Linked DNA regions of Homo sapiens: region 1 is linked to region 2. A link means that fine-mapping ties the variant in region 2 to the expression of a gene that starts in the linked region. Tissue or cell type: cerebellum. Region 2 holds a variant in brackets; the other region holds the start of a gene. All regions are shown on one strand. Distances are from middle to middle. Region 1 holds the start of SNX31 (sorting nexin 31). Region 2 has its middle 11 kb from the start of ANKRD46.

Evidence for each region. PIP is the estimated chance that this variant, and not a neighbour inherited with it, causes the effect.
Region 1: SNX31 starts here. The variant in region 2 is the best candidate, but not a certain one, in a credible set for the expression of SNX31 in cerebellum (GTEx, PIP 0.58).

Annotation. Positions count from the first base shown.
Region 1 is chr8:100,647,635-100,652,013 of GRCh38, reverse strand. SNX31 (sorting nexin 31) reads left to right here and starts at 2,349. Exons shown (of 14, transcript NM_152628.4): 1 at 2,349-2,565; 2 at 2,666-2,740. The coding sequence starts at 2,500.
Region 2 is chr8:100,568,296-100,572,690 of GRCh38, reverse strand. No RefSeq gene overlaps it. Among named protein-coding and RNA genes, the nearest start is that of ANKRD46, 11 kb to the right of the region's middle. The variant G/A (reference allele first, on the strand shown) is at 2,252.

The DNA.
Region 1 (4,379 bases), 79 kb before region 2:
GAGCAAGACACTGTTTCAAAAAAAAAAAGAATTAAAAACTTGTAAAGGGTGCGCTTGTCAAGTCGTGGTACAGATTTCCCCAGGCACCCCTGAAAAGCAGCTTCACAGAGCACAGGCTCTAGAGGCAGATCACTTACTTCACATCCCCCATCTACTATTCACAAATTCTGCAATTCAGAGCAAGTTTCTTCATTGCCCTATGCTTCAGTTTCCCCATCTGTGAAATGAGAATAATATCAGTACCTACTTCAGGCAATTGTGAGAATTAAATGACTTCATTCATGTAAAGTGTTCAGAGCAGCGCCTCCAATCGCTGCTACCATTATTATACTTCTCTCTTGGTCATGTTTGAAGATTGTCTTGCACAGTGTGGAGTACACAGAAGGAGCTCAATAATGTTCACTGACTGAATGACTGAATAAGAGCTGACTGGCTACAGCAGAGGTCAGGGATGCAAGAGGACGGTGACTTGCACAGAGGCCTGTCCTGTTCCAGTTCAACTCCAGGGGGGCACTTAGTGAAAGGAAGGAAATGGCCCTGTTTGGACATGCCATGGGGTGAAACCAGGGTCCAGGCCATTCACTGGAGCAGGAAAGTTCCAGGAAAGCTGGGGCCACTTCTGGGTCTGACCAAAATGCTCTGCTTTGCCCTGAAGATCAGACCAGATTCCAGAGCTGCCGTGATCAGGCTTTGTCCCAAGAGGCACTCAGGAATACCCCTGGCCTTGGTATAGGGAGGCCTTCCAGATCAGAGATGGCCTATGGGCAGGGGAAATACCCTAAGGCCCATCTATCCTGGACTGAAAATTCCCTTGAAGTAAGTAGAGTTATTAACATGATTTCATAAGAAGGAACTGCAGCTTAAAGAGTGCACTAATTTCACACTTGTAATCTCAGCACTTTGGGAGGCCGAGGTGGACAGATCACCTGAGGTCAAGAGTTTGAGACCAGCCTGACCAACATGGAGAAACCCTGTCTCTACTAAAAATACAAAATTAGCCGGGTGTGGTGGCGTATGCCTGTAATCCCAGCTACTCAGGAGGCTGAGGCAGGAAAATCACTTGAACCCGGGAGGCAGAGGTTGTGGTGAGCTGAGATCGCACCATTGCACTCCAGCCTGGGCAACCAGAGCAAAACTCTGTCTCAAAACAAAAAAAAAAAAAACAAAAAAACACAAAAAACACTAATTTGCCCAAGGCCTCTCAACTAGAAGCCACTAAGCTGGGACATGAATTCCTGTTGCCATTCTCTTAACTACTATATGATACTGCTTCCCTCACTTAATGGCCCTAGCCTCAATTTCCTTTTCTATAAGACCAGAACTGTCAATGGCTCCTAGCCCACAGGTGTTTGTGAAAATTAAATGGCATAGCATATGTCAGGTCCTGGCACCCAGCAAGCACGCAGGAGGCACCGGTGTTTGGCAGGCGTCGCTTCTCCTTCCTTAGTCTCGGATTCCCGTTTCAGGCATGCAGCTCTTACCCCAGGGATGACTGGCATTTGAAAGGACTTTCAATGATCCTGATGAAATCCTGCAGTAAACGACTCAGACCCATGAAAAAAATGCCCTGTGAGCTTGGACAAGTTCCTCCACCCCCTGGGCCTGTTTTGTCCGTGGTAGGATGTCCTCTGTTTACCTGGAAGAGTTACGGGTAGATTAAAGGAGAGAGGGAAGAACGGAGCCAGCCCAGGCTTGCTACAGAACAGGCTGGTGAGAGCTGCAGCATCTCTGTGCTCTGTGATCACGGCAAGGTGGGAGGAATTCTAGTTTCATTTAACTAAAATAGAGAATTAGGAAGATTATTTTCCACAGCAACTAAAAATGAGAGACTGTTGAAAGAACTTGCACTGGGTAGTCCAGAGAACCAAGTGTTTATGTGAATGCACCTGTCTAAAAATGAGGGCTTCTCAGGGATCAAGAGAAACCCAAGCCATTTCCATTTGGGGGGGGCTTCTGGTATTTTAAGGGGAAAAAACAAGATTGAAAGAATAATACGAAAGCAAGGTTGCATATATTGCTGCATGTCTTGTGTTACATTTAACAAATGTCAGTACAAAAAAACTGACCAAACATAACTCTGCTAATCATAAGGCAGTTACTAGATCTATGTAATTACAGAAATCTTAATTAGTGCACTGCAGGCAGCGTTGGCAGGTAATGGGACACAAACTGTTTTCAAGCCCCTCACGGGCCTTCTTGGAGAAAATGCCAACAGTGGCCGATGTCCGGGGTGGGGGTGGCCGTGGATGCGCCCCAGCCCCAGGCGCCACCTATCCCGGGACCAGAGCGGCGGGGCTGGATGGGGCGGGGACTGGGAGGCGGCGCGGCCCGGCCCCGGCCCCACCTGTAGATGTCCCCGGCCGGCGAGAGCGGGCGCCGGGGTTCGCTCTGAGTCGCGTGGCAGGCCGCGCTGCGTCCACCGCTGCCGAGTTCAGAGCCGCGCACCGCCCGCCGCCGCAGGTCGGGTTCCCAGCGCTACTCCCAAGACACCGCTCAGCCATGAAGATGCATTTCTGTATCCCGGTGTCCCAGCAGCGGTCCGACGCGCTGGGGGGCCGCTACGTGGTGCGCCCAGGGCTGGGGTCAGGGTGGGCAGGGAGGGGGCCGGTGGCAATGCTCACTTATCCCTCGGCTCACCAGGGACGGGGTGTCTGTGTGTTTGCAGCTGTACTCCGTGCACCTGGACGGGTTCCTCTTCTGCAGGGTGCGCTACAGCCAGCTGCACGGTTGGAACGAACAGGTGAGCAGATTGGAGGCGGGTACGAGCCCATCCACTGAGACAGGTGGAGAAAGCTGTCCCCAAAGCGCTCTGTTCCTCTGACTCTGGCAAGACACTGGGCCTTTCACGGCCTCGGGCTTCCTATTGTGAAACAGGGTCCTGGTAAGGATGAACTGAATTGCTTGGCATACAGTTGGATGAATGCATGCTGCGGCTCCTGGTCGCCTACAGCTGTGAGATGAGGGAACCGGGCGCAGGTGATTCTTCCAAGCCCCTCGCAGTTGCAGCCGGGTGATCCCCGCTAGCGCCGCCTGGCAGGGCGCTGGGGCTATGCTGGGCCCCATTTCAGTGCCCGCTGTTCCCCAGGACAATGCTTCCCTCCAAAATTTGGAAACTGGGTCTAGATCAAGGCCTAGAGTCTTTGGAGTCTTGTACATGGGTATTTAATCTCCTTTGTCTCGAGAGTTTCTTAAGTTTGCCCCCTTTAAAAAGGTGTGTCTCTAGTTTTGTTTTTGAATGGCCATGAGGCTTCAAGTACTGGCAGGCTGGGAACCAGGGAACATGACTTACCAAGCTAGGATAGTTTCTCACCCTGCTGTCTTGACAGTATTTTCTCTGGGAGGCAGACTGATTTATTAGTCTGCTCTAATGGGTTTCATTGTTCTTATAAGGAGGTGTTATAAGTCTTCAAAATGGATTAGAGAAGTAAATGAAAGTTTAGAAATAAACTTTACACTCCTCCTCCACTCCCCCATGAATAGTGATTTTTGTTTTTTTGTTTTAGATTTTAGGTTATAAACAGCACATACCTAACATTAAAAACAAAAGTATAGGCCAGGCACCGTGGCTCATGCTTGTAATCCCAATACTTTGGGAGACTGAGGCAGGAGGATTACTTGAGTCCCAGAGTTTGAGACCAGCCTGGGCAACATAGCCGAGACCTTGTCTCTATTAAAAAAAAAAAAAAAAAAAGTGTAGAGAAAACTGAAAAAACTTTCCCAGAGGTAACAGCTGTTTTTGTTTGTTTGCTTGTTTTGAGAGAGTTTTTTCAGACAGTCTCTGGGTTTCTAGTGAGTTAGATACACCATGTTTCATTTAACCATCTTCTGTTGACCGACAGCTTAGTTTGTTTTTTCTGCTATTAAATTGTCACTGTAGCAAGCCTTCTTGCTCATACATCACAGTGCATTGGAAAAGTCCATTTTCAAGGTGTGATTAAGTATCTTTGGAGTCAACCAAGAACAGTTGTAATGTGGTTACTAGTTAATTTGAGTGGTCATCTTTGTATTACTAGTGCTGTGACCCAGTAGGTCCTTAGGAACGATTGTCAAATGATTGAATGAAGAATGGCATAGATTCAGACTTCTGGAAGATAAGAAGCTACTTGTGACTGAAACACATGGGGAATTGTGAGGACTGCAGAGGCAGGGATCTCAAAGGAAGAGAAAGGATGAGTGTCTTAGGCATTGGCAGGGGGAGGCAGGGTATCCTCTCCTACCCTCCTCTGTTTTCCTGCAGCTTGAGGTGGGGAAGGGGCAGGAGCAGAGCAGGAGGCAGCAAGAGAGCCTGTGACTGATCAACTGCGTCCTGGCTGATCACCTCACCTCTCCTCTGATCTTCAATTTTCTCATCAGAAATAATAAGCAAATGGGTCCTTATG
Region 2 (4,395 bases):
AATGGACTAGGATCCTCTTCAGATTAAAATGGAAGTTTATCTACTATTTTGCCAATTTAAGAGTAGTCAAGCTCTATCTCTTTTTAATAGCAAACACCTACACAATGGAAGAGGCTATCAGAGAAAACAAGAATGCAACAAATTGTATTTGGAGTAAGAAGACACATAAATTGAACCATATATAATTGCTGTCTTTGTAGGCCAAAAATAGTTTTATGTTGACAATTTCATGTTTCAACTTGATATGTAAGAGAGTAATCCCAGACAACATGTGGTTGGTGTCAAAAGTGTGCTATGTGGGCTGGGCGTGGTGGCTTACTCCTGTAACCCCAGCACTTTGGGAGGCCAAGGCGGGACGATCACTTGAGCCCAGTAGTTCAAGACCAGCTTGGGTAACATAGTGAGACCCAATATCTATTAAACAACAACAACAACAGCGTAGTGTGGACCTGCATGTCAAAGGACGTCGGGGCCATCAGGAAAGCCCCAAGGGGAAGAGGGACTTTGAAGAAAGAGTAGAGCCATGTGAGCAAAGGTGGGGCACCCTAGAGAAAGGGAAGGATAGTTACAGATGGGAGATTAAATGTGGCATTGTAGAAAAATGAGTAAACTTGTTCTGTGCTAGCGAAGTTTTAGGTTAAGGGAGTAGTTAGGAGATAAAGCTAAGAAGTGGGATGGATCAGAAATATATGTATATCCTAATGCAGCATCTCTACAGTATATGTAGAGCAGTTTGTCCTTTGAGGATGCACAAAAACAGAAGCATTTTATTTAATAGTTTTTTTTCCAAACATTGAGATTATCATCAGTGTCAGAATATGAGAAGAAAAATACAATTGATGACATGCATTCCACAGTATATAAATATAACATGAAGAATAAAGGAACTAGGGTAGCACATGATAAAACAAAAATTGAAACAAAATTCAAAACTTATTTTGTAAAATGATACATTTCTTAGTAGTTATGTGAGAGAAGAAGGAGCTATTAGCCTTTTTGGGGGATTACTGGGCCTAGTTTTATCTAGGAATTTAGGAGTTTAAATCACTTCTGGATCAAAACACTTGATCATTGCGTAAAAAGTCAGAACTTCAGCTGCCAGAGTGAGCTCCCCAGCTGCAGGTGCTGGGAGAAGATGGCGAGTGAGACCCCCTCATCACTCCAGGAGGTGAGGACCTCACTCTGCGGTAGTCCCTGCCACCGGCACAGCCACCCCAGCACTGGAGAAGCCATCAGCTGGTGCGTGGCTTTATCAGGTAGGTGACTGTTGATATCCTTCAGTAACTGCTAATCCTAAGGGGTGTGACATGGCTTTGCCAATTACCAGCCTATGCCTTTGTCCACTCCTCATATCCCTGCAAAAATGGTCCCCAGGCAACCACATTTTCTCCTGCAATGTCTATATCCACCATCACTTCTTTCCACTTCTAGACATTCATATGAGATTTTACTGCTGTTTATACTCCTAAAATAACTGGCATAAACAATTTGCCCACAGGCAAACACAACTGAGTTTGAAAATTTCACACAAATCATAATGAGAATAACTATTGGACAGAGGTGATTAAATTGTGGTCAGGCCCCACCGAGCCCCTTTGGGCCCTATGGAGGGAAGCATGTGCAGGCTTTGATTGAAGAGCTGACAGCAGAGAAACATGCTACAGGGAGTGGCAGTGCCCAGAAGAGTTCCCCAATAAAATGGAAATTGTTTCTAGGGGATCATGCCACCTGGGGAATGCAAGAAGGAGATATTCATGAGCAGGGAGCCTCTTTACCCCCAGGACTGACACAGACTGTAAGGTGCTGCTGGTTTCTATAGACACTTGGACAGTGCACTGTGAACAGCTCTTGATTGACCAATAAGGAGCTGCTCTGTTTACAGAAAGCATTTCCAAAGTGAATGGACAACATCCTCCTGTTTGGAAGGCTGCTGCTTTGATCAAAGAAGGTAAAAACAGATTAGCTGAGGGGGCTGAACTGCATGCTGTCTTTCTTACAGTAATGGAAGAACTGAACAGTAGTAGAAGCCTCCATGTTTGGGTTTTTACTGATTCGTGAGCAGTGACCAATGGCCTGGCCATACACTCAGGCAAGAGGACTATGGAAATCTGATCTATTAAAGGAATGTCCATATGGTGCATAGCCCTATAGAAATTTGAGGGGTGCATTAAAGGAGAATAAGTCAATGCCCATCAGAAGAACTTCCTCCCCAGGCTGAGAAGGTGACTGGAATAGACAAGCAGTTATCTCC[G/A]TGTCTGCCCTTGTGGTCATCACCTGGTCCATGAAGTGAGTGGATATAGGAATACTGCAGCAGTGCAGAGATGGGATGAATCTAAACATGTTCCTTTTGCATCTTTGCAGGCACAGAATGCCAATAAGAACTGTCCTGTTTGTCAGCAAGAGAGACAGAAACTTCCAGTGGCTATGGGGCAGATTGCCTGGTGGGAAGGCCCTGACCAGAGCTGGCAAGTGAAACTGATGCTGGTAGCCCTGGGGGGGCTACACATTGGTCTTGACAGGAATTAGACACTGACTGTGGACTGGGCTTTGCTTCCTTAGTGGAAGATGAAAATGCTCAGAGCACCATAAAAAAACAAGAACTGAAGACTTGCATGGATTTGTACAGAAAACTGTCATTTCTTCAGACCAAGGAACAATGTATAAGCCATAATATCCAACAATGGGCAGAGAGATACCTCCTTAGAGTAATAGTTTAGTAATAGAGAAGTAGAAGGAGTATAAAACATTGGTTGTCTAGAACAGGGAGATAAATTATGAAGGGCTGGCTTACACACCTTCACAGGTAGGTGCTAACACTCAACATGAATGGGACTAAAGGAGTGTCCCCACTAGATTTTTGTGTTTTCTTTGTTTGTTTTTTTTTTTTTTTTTTTGGTTGATTTGGGAAGAGGGATTGGGGAGGATGCTGATATGACTATGCAATTCTTGCCAAGGGAGGAGTACACTAGTATAATGACTATAATTTTCTCTCTCTTCCCCAAACAACCTCAATTTTTTTTTCTCTCCTCTACCTGATGCAATGATCCTAGGACCAGGGCTACAACTACAAGTGCTGGAAGCAAGGATGATTTCTAAGCAAGAAGCTGTAACTACATTTTTAAACTTTGTATCTGAATTCCTAAGGGGATAATGGGGGCGGGTTGTGCCTTCACCCCATCTAAGAAATTGGGATCAAGAGTGAATGCAGCTATGTTCTCTGGTGGCAAAACTAGCTCACTAGTTCTGCACCTGTGTAACCTTACCCTATCTGAATGGCGGTGGATTGAGGAGGAGCTACTTGCTAGACTAGTATTGCTGCCCACAATCTAGACCAGCACAGTGGCAATTCTAATGTCCCTTCCAAAGGTGAAAAAGTTTGAGTATTAATGGAGAGAAGGAGAAAAAGTAGCTGAGAGTAAAGAAAAAAAAAAGGTTATTAATGGAAGGAAATTCAATATTACATTAATACCTCAAAAGAGTCTCAGAGCAAAAGATGACATGATGTCTCAGCTCAGTTATTCCAGATGCCTCAAAGGGTGAGGCTAGGTGCCAAGACCACTCCTGTTTTTGGCACCTGATAAGATTGAGAGGAAACCTGCAAACCTGAGTGACTTTACTCTGGGAGACATTCATACACAATGATGGACTGGACTAATTATTAATGACTGTGTGGGATTCTAGTAATAAGGCGATATCTTTTGAATTGTATGTCCTTTTGTAAAAATTATTTTTCTGTAGAGACAAGGTCTTGCTATGTTGCCTAGGCTGGTCTCAAACTCCTGGTCTCAAGTGATCCTACTACCTCTGCCTCCGAAAGTGCTGGAATTACAGGTGTAAGCCACCATGCCTGGCCTGTATATTCTTTTGATGAAAGGGATCTGTGTTTGAAAACCAGGGGGTGGCCTGATAGTTTAGAGTAAACGTTTAGTAATAGAGAAGTAGAACAACTAATTAGAACATCGGTTGTCTAGAATGGGGAGATAAAATGAAGGGCTGGTTTACATGCCTTCACAAGTATGTGTTAACACTCAACATGAAGGGACTAAAGGACTGTCCCCATCAGTGGCTGGTGGTATTATGATACATATATATTGGTTTTCATCCATGGTTCCTGGCTCATAACTCTAAAATCCCATATATATATATATAAGCTAACATCCTCCCCAGAACTAGGTCTCAGTTTACATCAGCGTGTGGTCAGCATACAGCTTGCACACATCCCCACATGGACATTTAAGCAAATTTTACATTAAACATTTCAGTTAGAAATTACCTTAAGATTACCCTCAAAGTAAAATTGAGAAGAGCTTGGTGTTCCTAATTTGTGGAAAAAACAAGTAGGTGCCAACCTTTGGTGGTAAAACAGTGGCAAAATGATTCTAAAATACCAAACAA